3 linked regions of the Homo sapiens genome follow. The protein of the gene in region 1 interacts with the protein of each later gene in a biochemical or structural test. Each region holds a gene or a part of one and is shown in the gene's direction. Other genes may lie near its edges. The genes, in order: MYO6, TOM1L2 and SEPTIN9.

Region 1 (3,600 bases):
GCCTTGGCCTCCCAAAGTGCTGGGATTGCAGTTTCATAGAGTTTAATTATGATACCCATAATGAGATATTTCATAATAATTTGTGAACTGGCCCTTTACTAGTATAAGATTGTTGCACATTTATTAGGCATCTTCCATAATTGGACAGATCACAGATTGAGGGGCTTGATCTACAAAATAATTTTCTAGGCTAATGGTCTTGTCCTTTTACAGATGAGGGAGTCTAGTCTCAAAGAATTAAATGCTTGCTCCAGAAGGGCAAAGTCTGGATTCACACCTGAGTCATTTGACCACGAAGCCCCTGTTTTTTCCACCAGAACAGTTTGCCTTGGTTTCAGTTCACTTGGTGGACTGTTTAAACCGGCAAAACTGGTATTATGTCAAAGAATGTAATTCAAGGTTTGACAAAAGCATCCAGGAGTAGATATGATAGGCCGTGAATGTAGTTCTGGAACAAATTTAGAATCCTGTGTTTGTGTCTTCATTCTCAAGTTGACAGCCTTGAACACTGATGCTGCTGCTTTCTCATTTCTCGTATAGTTCTAGGACATTATATGTATTGTGCATGTATGTATGCTGTTAAACATATGTATGTGTTTAACTTTGATAGGTTTGTGAGAACTAGAATTAGATTGTAATGTTCCTGGTTGGGATAGAACTTTAAAATTTTCCTCTAATGAAAAAGATAATTATTTATGCAGTAGCTATCCTTTAAATATTACATAATTAATTCTCTAATCTTGAGAGGGGGGACTCGTTTTTAGATTATGATTAAATTGTCACTTAGAAACTATTAGTACAAATCTTTTCTATGGTCTGTGGAATATCCCTTGAGCCGCAATAGACATAAATGACAACAGTGAGCAAATAAGCCCATTTTTTCTGGTAACAAACTAGGAATCATGCATTTCAGCAGTAGGATGTAGTTGGGTAAATGAGCAGAAGCAAGGTAGGAAGGCTGAGTTGGGTGGCTACCATTACGGATTTTTTTCATTATTTGCTTTGAACTATTAGGAATTGTGCATCTCAAGGATATTCATATTCAACTGTAAATACAAAACCACCACCTAATATAAATTAGTAATATTACTAATATAAATTGGTAATAGATCTGTGACACACACATCAAGAAGTAGAGTTAAATAAGCTTAAGTTCTCTTTTGGAGGCATTATATCTATATGCATGTATCTATGATCTATATATGTGTGTGTGTGTGTATATATATATATATATATATATATGTTTTTTGGAGACAGAGTCTCATTCATGCCACATGCAGTGGCATGATCTCGGCTTACTGCAACCTCCATCTCCCAGGCTCAAGTGACACTCCCACCTCAGTCTCCGGAGTAGCTGGGACCACAGGTGTATGTCACCATGCCTGGCTAACTTTTTTGTGTTTCTGGTGGAGAGGGGTTTTGCCATGTTGCCCAGGCTGGTCTTGAACTCCTGAGCTCAGATAGTGTGCTGCCTCGGGCTCCCAAAGTACTGGGATTACAGGCATGAGCTACCGTGCCTTGCCGGCATTATATAATGTTCAGAGGAACCAGGATCTTTTCATTTAAAATGGTTCTGATTTTATTTGACAAATTTGAGTGGACTAGAATCTTTAAATATTTTGCAACGTCTTTCTAGTTACTGTTTTCAAAAATTAGCTTATTTTTCTTATTGATTAGTGTAAGAATGACATAATGGTTTGAGAAATGACCATAAGTCCACCAAAAGTTTTCCCTGTGAGTACTGAAGCATAAAAAGTAAAACCTAAAGAAGAAATCTGGCATCTTTAGAAATCTTGCTGGTGCTAAAGAGAGAGGAAATAATTTTTTATACAGAAGGCATGTCTCAAGTGAAACCAAAACACCAAAGCACATTCCTTCAGTGTATATTCACATGGGGTAAATATGATGCTGAGTAATGTGCACAAAGGAAACTCTTGACAAAAACACAGTCATCTTTTGAGTATGTTAGGTCATTTGTTATTTCATTTGAAAATAACCTGGCTGGGGCGTGGTGGCTCACACCTGTAATCACAGCATTTTGGGAGGCCAAGGTGGGTGGATCACCTGAGGTCAGGAGTTCAGACCAGCCTGGGCAATGTGGTGAAACCCCATCTCTACTAAAAATACAAAAATTAGCTGGGTGTGGTGGTGGGTGCCTGTAATCCCAGCTACTTGGGAGGCCAAGGCATGAGAATCACTTGAACCTGGCAGGTGGAAGTTGCAGTGCACTGAGATTGGGCCACTGCAGTCCAGCCTGGACGATTGAGTGAGACTCCGTCTCAAAAAAAAAAAAAAAAAAAAAAAAAAAGTAAGCCGCTGACTAACCTTTACAAGGTAATATATTTTCTGTGGCAGAATTTTTTGATTTCTGATCTATGTGGATGAACATCTTTTTCAACAGATATTTACTGAGGGCCCACTGTGTTTTAGATATGACAAGTGTGAACTGATTCCTCCCTGTGCTGGCATATCTTTGGATCCAGGAAATAGGAAGAGTTGCAGAGATATGAAAAAATAAATAGAAACCATCCATTTGAAATCCAAAGACATATACGTCAAAAGCTAATAACTTATATTTGGATGGCATTTTATTGCTTTAAAATATTTTTGTATGCATTTGGTCCTTAAAACAACTTGATGAAGTAGATTTAGTAAATTTATTCCTTTTCTACAGGTAAGGAAATGGAGACTCAAAAAATTAAAAATACTGGCTGCATGTGGTGGCTCATGCCGGTAATCCCAGCACTTTGGGAGGCTGAGGTTGGGAGGATCACTTTAGCCCAGGAGTTTGAGAACAGCCTGGGCAACATGGTGAAACCCTTTCACAAAAAATATTATACAAAAATTAGCTGGGTGTGGTGGTGCACGCCTATAGTGCTAGCTGTGTAGGAGGCTGAGGTTGGAGGATCTCCTGAGCCCAAGAGGTCAAGGCTGCAGTGAGCTGTGATTGCACCACTGCACTCCAGTCTGGGTGACAGAGCAAGATCCCGTCTCTAAATAAATAAATACATTACTTAAAATTAAGTAACTTGTTCAAGGTCAATGTGGCTACTTAGAAGCATCATCTCTGTGTAGTCCCAAAGTAGTAAGTCCTCCACTTTCCCCCTATTGCTTATGTATTTAACCTCACATTATGGCTTCAAGTCAGGTGGTTCAGGAAGTTCTGAAAAATTAGGGTCACTAAAATGGTGATTATTAAATTGTTACAGGTTATTTTTTAATGGAAGATAGAAGATGAGCATGATGCATCATTATGGAACTACTTTAACATTTTAAATAGATTGCTAGACTGAAATTGGTAATTAGCTTTTCTAGTTGGAGAATTTTTAAAGAACAATTAGTTAAAAAAAGGAAGGAGAAAAATGTTCTGGGGGAATTTTGAAAATAACTTTTATTACTTTGTGCATTGGTAGTGATCCGATAGTTACAACTGTCTTTGTAAAGACTCACTAAAGAACTGTGTGTGCGTCTGTGTTGGTTCCTTTATGTCTTCATTTATTTAAAACGTACTGTAGTGTCTACCACGGACCAGGCACTATTCTAAGTTCTAGGGATACAGTGATTAAATTAAGACCAAGCCCCTGTACTGACATTTTATTG
Region 2 (3,823 bases), on another chromosome or scaffold:
TTCCTGATTTTTGATGTAAAAGAACCCCTGCCCCAAAGACCCATTGTCTCCATCCTCAGAGATAGGGCTAGAAGATGAGGATACTATGCATCTGAAAATGGCAACAGGTCCCAAGAAAGGAGAGCTGCAGTGGCTGCATGTGATAACTGCTGGCCCCTCCCTCTGTTCTTTACAAAGCACTTTCACTCTCAGCAGCCCAGTAGGGGGCCAGGGTGGCGGATGAAGAAGTGCACTCTGGGAAGTGGCTTGCCCAGAGTCATGGGGTAGTTGGATTCTCCCCCAGAGCTGGAGACACCTCATCTCCCTCCTAGGTGCCTCCTCTGTAGGGGGCCTTGTCCCCAGGCAGAAGAGCCTGTTGAGTTCTTTAACCACAGGGTCAGCCTGGCTGTCTGTGGGCTGGTGACCTGGCTACCTCCCACACCAGGACAGCAGGCCTCAGGTTGGGGCCTCTGGCTGCTCTGGGCCTCCTCCCCAGAAGGTCAGCTTTCCAAACACATGCCTTGCCAAAGAAGGCAGCTGCCTGGGTGTCAGGGAGGAAGAACACACCCCGGGACATCTTTCCCAAGGGGCTGTCTCGAAAAGAAATTGCTTCTCTCACAGAAGCAAGGCAGGAAGGACCAAGGTCCTTAACTTCTAAGGGGGACCCCAGGGTCCAGACAGGGAGGGGATGTGTCCAGTAAGGCTACATAGCAGGTCAGTGGTAGAGTCAGGAAGGAACCCAGGTCTCCTAGCCCAGCCCAGGGCTTTGTCACTTCCCCATCCTGCCCCTTCCCAATGAGGCCCTGCACATGCTGCTCTTCCCCAGTCCCCAGGGAACCCCATGAGCTCAAGACACTACCATGTTCTCCAAACAAAATCAAGTCTGATGCACTTTAATTTTTGAGTGCACAGAGCCTCCATGGCTCCTTGAGGAGCCAGCAGCAGATAATATAATCTGGGCCACGGGAGGAGGCTGGTGCAGCTCCCAGGAGGCTGCAGGACATGGCTTCTGGAGGCACAGCCTCCACTCCCAAAGTACCTACTGAGTGACAGGCCCTGTGCTGTGGGCTTTGTGGCCCTGAGCCATCAAGGCCTCATGCGGTTTCCAGCTATTGGTGTCAACAGCGTCTTCCCAGAAACCCTGTGGCTGGCAGTGAGTGGGTGTTGTGTTGGGCACACGTGACCCTGTGTGTGCTCAGGCTCAGCCCCCTGTGGCTACTGCTCTGTGCCTCTCCCTAGAGCCTCAAGAGTGCCAAAGGTGGGGTCCCGCCCTCTGCAGCCCAGGCTGGAGAACCAGCCTGCACCGTTTTTGGAGTTTTCTTTCCAGCCTTTCTGGAGGATCAAAACCTAAAACATGTTTGAATTTTTTGCTTTTGTTTTTTAAAAACAAAGCTTCTGTTTCTCCAATAAGAAGAGCAGTATTTTACTATTACAGAAATCTGGAAACAGGGAAAATTAGGAAGTTTTGTTCAGGCTACCCTGGGCAGTGCTGTCCTAGGGTGGCCATGGGCAGACAGAGGTGGCTGGGCGGGCAGTGCTTGGACCAGTGCCCTAATTTCATTTTCTCTGCTCCTCCCACAGAAGGGTGATGATCTGGAGGAGGGTGTCACAAGTGAAGGTATGGCCTGGCCAGTGGCCTTACAGCCCCCTTTTGTTGCCTCTGTGCAGGCTGCACAGGAGCCAGCCCCCATCATCTTGGAGCCCCCGCTGCCAGAGCACCTACTGGTGCCAGGCCCTGAGCCATGGGCTTCACGGGTGGCTTTGTCCCACCCAGGTCTTACGCTGATTTGGGAAGTGTGATTTATCTCGCTTATTGGGAAACAGGTCAGAAAGAACATGTCAATTCCACAAAGTTGCAGAGCTGGTGAATAGCGGGTGCAGATTGCCACCTGGTCCTGACCCACAGGTGCTCAGCCCAGCTCAGACACGCAGTTTGTGGAGGTGCGCAGCAGCACCCTTGGGCCACTGAGCCAGAAGGGAGGAGCCTCTCCTGGGCCTCAGCTGATGGGCTGGATGGGAGCAGCGGGGTCTTAGTTCTCCCACATGGCCACCCCCACATCCCCTGCCCTTCACATCCTGCCTCCCCAAGCTCATCTTGCCCCACTCCATCTGCCTCTCCGTGCTCCTGTCCTCCTCTCCCCAGGTCTGCCAGACCCTGTGGCCAGACCGCTCCGCAGGGAGGGAAACTTCAGAGGACCCTGCTCCCTAGCTCTCAGTGCCCATAGAAATGGGGCACTCCCCCCTCCCCACTGCATTCCTCAGCATCTCCTCAGTCCTCCATTGGTGGGCAAGGGTGGGGTAGGTGGGATGGTTCCTGCCTGTTTAATCAGAAGCTGGCCCCTCCAGCTTACCCTGCCCCACCCCCAGTGCTGATCTGGAAAATGGACAAAACCCAGTGCTGATCTGGAAAATGGTCAGCGGTAGGGTGAGCACTCTGGGCTGTGTTTTCCAGAGCCTTTCCCTCCAGGGCAGGAGGACTGGGCACAGCCAGGAGCCTCCCCCCACACTGCAGCTCACGAACCCCTCCCTACCCACCTGCTCCTAGGTGGGCTTCATGCCTGCCCTAGAGGAGGAAACGGGCTGGGGAGTGGAAGGGTGCGCTTCCTCTGGTGGCCTGCCCTCACCAACCCTGACCCTTGCCTTGGTTTGTATTGCAGAGTTTGATAAATTCCTTGAAGAAAGAGCCAAAGCTGCTGAAATGGTTCCCGACCTCCCCTCGCCCCCCATGGAGGCTCCTGCCCCAGCCTCAAACCCTTCTGGCCGGAAGAAGCCAGAGCGGTCAGAGGATGCCCTCTTCGCCCTGTGAGCAGCTCTGTGGTTTGCCTCCCCAGATGGCGGGTCCCCGCTCGCACCCCGTGGACACCGGGCACTGGCCACTCCTACATCCCCAGCTCCACACGGCCTGCACACCTGTGTTTCCATGGAAATGCCACCGTGTCTGCTCCCAGGCCTCCCACTAGTCAGGACCAGCTTCAGCCACTTCTTTTCTCTGAGTGGTGGGACAACTGCAGCCAGAGACTCTCTCCCCTCCCACCATGGGCCCCTCTGCCCATGTTTCCTCCCAGGAAGAGCGGGCAGAGTGGCCCAGCCCCAGGCAGTGCTTCCTGAGCAGACCACCCGGACTGTCTTTCCTCCACCCGCCCATGGAGAAAGAGCACGCCCGGCCCCGCCCTGTGCTCACCTCTGCCTGGCTCAGCGACCTTCTCAGGCATTCTGCCCTCCTGGGCCCCTCTCTCCCTGAAGGGGCTTTGTGGCATCTCTGGAAGAGCAGGGTGTGCTGCACTCATGGGCCTGGTCTCACTCCTTGGACTTGTCACCTTGTGACATTTGGCTTATCAGCATTTGAGAAGGCTCTGCTGGGTCTCCATGGTGGGGGTCTCTCACCTTCTTGACCCTCTCTCCATCATTCAGCTGCCAGCCCAGGCTTCACACCCAAGCTGGCTCAGCAGCCGAGCCTGGCACCGAGGGTCCCTGCAGGCTCCCTGGGCAGGGAGAGGGCCAAGGACAATTGGGAGGGCAGCAGGCAGCCCGCAGATGGTGGCCATGTGGCACGCTGCTGAGACGACACTACCAATAAACCAAACTGCCACGCACACACTGCAGGCTCACACCCGCACACCTGGTCCTGGCTTGTGGAGGGACTTGCACTGGAGGTATTGCTCTGGCTTGCCTGGGGAAGTGTCACAGATGTGCACATGGGCCACACTCAGTGCTGTGGCCTGGCCTGCCGTAGCCTCACACATCTGCCTCAAGAGCCAGCAGCAAACAGCTTTGTGGCATCCTTGGAGGTTCCCAGTGACTGAGAGGCCTGGGCAGCACTAAGGCCCCTGCTCTGCTCCCTGGC
Region 3 (3,823 bases), on another chromosome or scaffold:
CAGAGGAGGAAGCTGTCCGGTGCTCCTCCCTGCTGCGTGGGTCCTTTGAATCTGCCCAGTTGGGCCTGTGGATCTGTGCAGTCACGTACGGGGTTCTAAAATCTGCAAAATGACAAGCTCACGAACACTCTCGCTTCTGTGGGTGAATGTGGATACCCCTTGGCTGCGTCTCCCTCCACAGGGAAGATGGAGACGTGTAAAGTGACAAGGACCTGCTACCCCTGGGCAGGTTATGCCGGTTCCACTGTGAGGATGGTGGCAGGGGGCTTCCCAGGAGGCCTGCACATTGGGAAGAGAGGGGCGACCGTGTGTGACTGCAGGACCCAGGGCGCAGTCTTAGGACTCTGATGGGGGAGGAGATGCTGGGGAGCCCTGTTCTGCCAGCCTGGTGACAGACATCTCCTAATGTTTCCCGGCTGGGTACAACTCACAATGTCCTCCGTGGGGAGGCAATTGCCCATGAGGCATCCCTGGCAGGGATGATCTTGTTTCATTGCCACATATCCCAGCAATGAAACAAGAATCTAGAGTGATGTGATTCCTCCGATGACTTCTCCAACCATCTGGGGTTTTTGTGCGACTCCAAGAAGGGGGAAGGAGGCAGCTCTCGCTCCTCTGGGCTCCTGATGTGGCAGCTCTGGAATGGCCACGTGTCCGTTGGCCCACAGTGGGCCATTTGTCGAATGTGGTTGTGGTGGGATTGGGGCTGGGCTGGAGAGTGGGTGACCACACCAGCTAGCCTCACCCTGGGCCACTGTGCAGCCAGGGGTTTCATCTTCCCAGGGGTCTCGTTGTGAGTGTCCTGGGGCTGCTGGAACAAATTACTGGAAACCAAGTGGCCCAACAAAGATTGATTCGCTCATGGTTCTGGAGGCCACAAGTTTGACATCAAGGTATTGGCAGGACCACACTCCCTCCGACAGCTCGAGGGGAGGACCCTTCCTTGCCTCCTCCAGCTTGCGTTGGCCCAGGCGCTCCTTGGCTCTGGCAGCATCTGCAGTCTCTGCTCTCATCACGTAGCCCTCCCCACCGTGTCTCTTTGTGTCCCAAGTCCCCTTCTGCCTTTCTCCTATAAGGACACCGAGCACTGGATTTAGAGCCCATCCCAAATCCAGGATAGTCTCATCCCGGGATCCCTAATCACATCTGCAAAGACCCTTTTTCCAAATAAGGTCACATTCGTGGGTTCTTGGGGTTAGGTATTAGACATGTCTTTTTGGGGGTCACTAGTCAACCCTCTACAGAACCTCAGACGAAAGTGAATCTTCACAGGCTGAAATGGGGGTGAAGGTCTAGTGCGTCCCTCCTCCTTGGGAGCTCCCTCAGGGCTTGTGCCTATCCTGTGATCCTGTGATCCAGCCTTTTTTTTGAGATGAAGTCTTGCTTTGTCGCCCAGGCTGGAGTACTGTGGCACGATCTGGGCTCACTGCAACCTCTGCCTCCCGAATTTAAGTGATTCTTCTGCCTCAGCCTTCCAAGTAGCTGGGATTACAGGCGCCCACCCCCATGCCTAGCTAATTTTTTGTGTTTTTAGTAGAGACAGGGTTTTACCATGTTGGCCAGGCTGGTTTCGAACTCCTGACCTCAGGTGATCCGCCTGCCTTGGGCCTGCCTTGGCCTCCCAAAGTGCTGGGATTACAGGCATGAGCCACCACGCCTGGCATTTAGTAGGTTTTGGTTGTTTTTTTTTTTTGAGACAGAGTCTCACTCTGTCATCCAGGCTGGAGTGTAGTGGTGTGATCATGGCTCACTGCAGCCTTGATCTCCTGGCCTCAAGTGATCCTCTCACCTCAGCCTCTCGAGTAGCTGGGATTACAGGCATATGCCACCACCCCTGGCCAATTTTTGTATTGTTTAGTGGAGTCGGGGCTTTGCCATGTTGCCCAGGTTTGTCTTGAACTCCTGGGCTCAAGCGATCTGTCCACCTTGGCTTCCCAAAGTGTTGGGGTTACAGGCGTGAGCCACCACGCCTGGCTTAGTAGGTTTTCTAGAAGCGCCTGAGGCCTGGTGAAGGCATGGTGTCATGGAGTAGAGAACATTCAACTCTGTTCCCGGGGAGCCGGAACACACCCCTCGTAGCCAATCTCAACAGTCATGACGTGGCCAGGATGACATGGGGAGGGGGTGGTGTGGACTGTGTGGGAGGCCAGCTCCCCGGGAAGGGGGCTGGAGTGGGCTTGGCTTTGAGGAGGATTCCCAAGAGGAGGAGGAGGCGGTGGCATGCTCGTTTGGGGGGATGGCGTGAGCCAGGGTGGGCACCTCTTCATTTAGGTGTCACCTTCTTGACATTCCAGCCGGGACATGGTTTCCTTGGGGAAGATGGACACCCCCAGAGTGGGGCATCTCCTGGGGAAGATGGACACCTCCGGAATGGGGCGCCTCCTGTTCTCACTGTTCTTCTAGCACACAGTTGTATTCTCTTGCAGTTCTGGAGGCTGTGAGATCTCCTGGCTGTTATCTAGAACAAACTCGCCTTTGAGCAGCGCCGTCCTGATGGTGGGGTGGCCCCTGCGGGTGGAACAGCCCCTGCTGTCTCAGAGCTTACTGAGAGCTAGTGGGCATGGGAGTGGTGCTGGACCGAAACACCCAGAGGGATCATAGAGCCAGGCAGTAAGCACAGAGGCCAGCTAGTGGGGAGGGAGGGACCCATCCATGAAAAGACACCAAGCATTGAAAGAGAGGAGAGGATGGTTGGGGACCGGCACACATGTGCATTTTGCGCAGATGGCCAAGGTGGTGAGGCGCCAGCCACGCAGACAACTGGAGGAAGGAGGAGTGCCCTAGGGGAGGGGCCAGCTCCGGTTCTAGAATGATCCGCTTGTGCACGTGGGCCTGGCTGGAATAAATCATTGCATCCGCACCGTAGACTCAATCGTAAGCTCACACCAGGGCAGCCTCTGCTTTGGTGCAGTGTCTTCGATCATGAGTTGGCCATGGTGGGGGTGACTCCAAGGGGACTCCCAAGGAGGGGGTTCACCGGATCTCCCAGGGAAGGTCATTTGTTTTCTTGGGTTGGACCTGGGACAAGGCCTTCTCCTGTCTAGTTTCTGTTCTCCAACTTGACCGCACGGAAGGATGCTGAGGACACCTGGAAGCCGGCCCCTGCTCTACAGCACCCATAGGACAGAGGCACACCATGTGGGGACAGTTTGGACAGTGCTCAGGAGGCAGGGAGCAGATCAGAGGACCGCGGGAGGCCCTGGGAACCGCACGAGGACCCAGGCATTGAGCTCTGCACTTTCTGGCATCAGCCCGATGTACAGTCTGGCTCTGTGTCTACCCCGTACTTCACTTTCCCCATCTGTACGGGGGCGGTAATAATATTCTTTACAGCCCAGGTTTAAGCGGGTGTAGATGTGATGAGCTTGGTAAGCCCATCTCATTACATTCAGTTCTGGGCATTGAACCCTGGACTTTCTGGCTGGTAGAAGTGGACATTCAACCTTTCCTTGGGGCCCTGGGGCTTCTGCAGAATCAGAACACAGCCAGCAGTTTGCATGCAGGGTGCAGAGGGACAGAGGGACACCATGTCGGGAGCCCACACCTGGCACACCCCTGACTCTGGGGCTCAGTGTCCTGCTGCCCTGCGGCCACGTGATCAGCTAGAGGTCATGGCTGGACCCATAGGCGAATACAGCCTGTGGATTTGATTTTGTTTGGCCCTGCGGTGTTTTATTTTATTTTTAGTTTTAGTTTGTGGAGACAGAGTCTCGCTCTGTCAGTCAGGCTGAGTGCAGTGACACGATCTCAGCTCTGCAACCTCTGCCTCCCGGGTTCAAGCGATTCTCCTGCCTCAGCCTCCTGAGTAGCTGGGACTATAGGC

The links.
Region 2: the proteins of MYO6 (region 1) and TOM1L2 form a complex in vitro, tested with the Homo sapiens proteins (one study listed by BioGRID).
Region 3: the proteins of MYO6 (region 1) and SEPTIN9 form a complex in vitro, tested with the Homo sapiens proteins (one study listed by BioGRID).

The regions. Positions count from the first base shown.
Region 1 is NC_000006.12:75,752,239-75,755,838, forward strand, and holds part of MYO6 (unconventional myosin-VI), read left to right. Parts: intron 1-3,600. UniProt on the Homo sapiens protein: Myosins are actin-based motor molecules with ATPase activity. Unconventional myosins serve in intracellular movements. Myosin 6 is a reverse-direction motor protein that moves towards the minus-end of actin filaments.
Region 2 is NC_000017.11:17,846,597-17,850,419, reverse strand, and holds part of TOM1L2 (TOM1-like protein 2), read left to right. Parts: intron 1-1,560; coding exon 1,561-1,597; intron 1,598-2,636; coding exon 2,637-2,785; 3' UTR 2,786-3,823. UniProt on the Homo sapiens protein: Acts as a MYO6/Myosin VI adapter protein that targets myosin VI to endocytic structures. May also play a role in recruiting clathrin to endosomes. May regulate growth factor-induced mitogenic signaling.
Region 3 is NC_000017.11:77,396,299-77,400,121, forward strand, and holds part of SEPTIN9 (septin-9), read left to right. Parts: intron 1-685; exon of another isoform or gene 686-756; intron 757-3,823.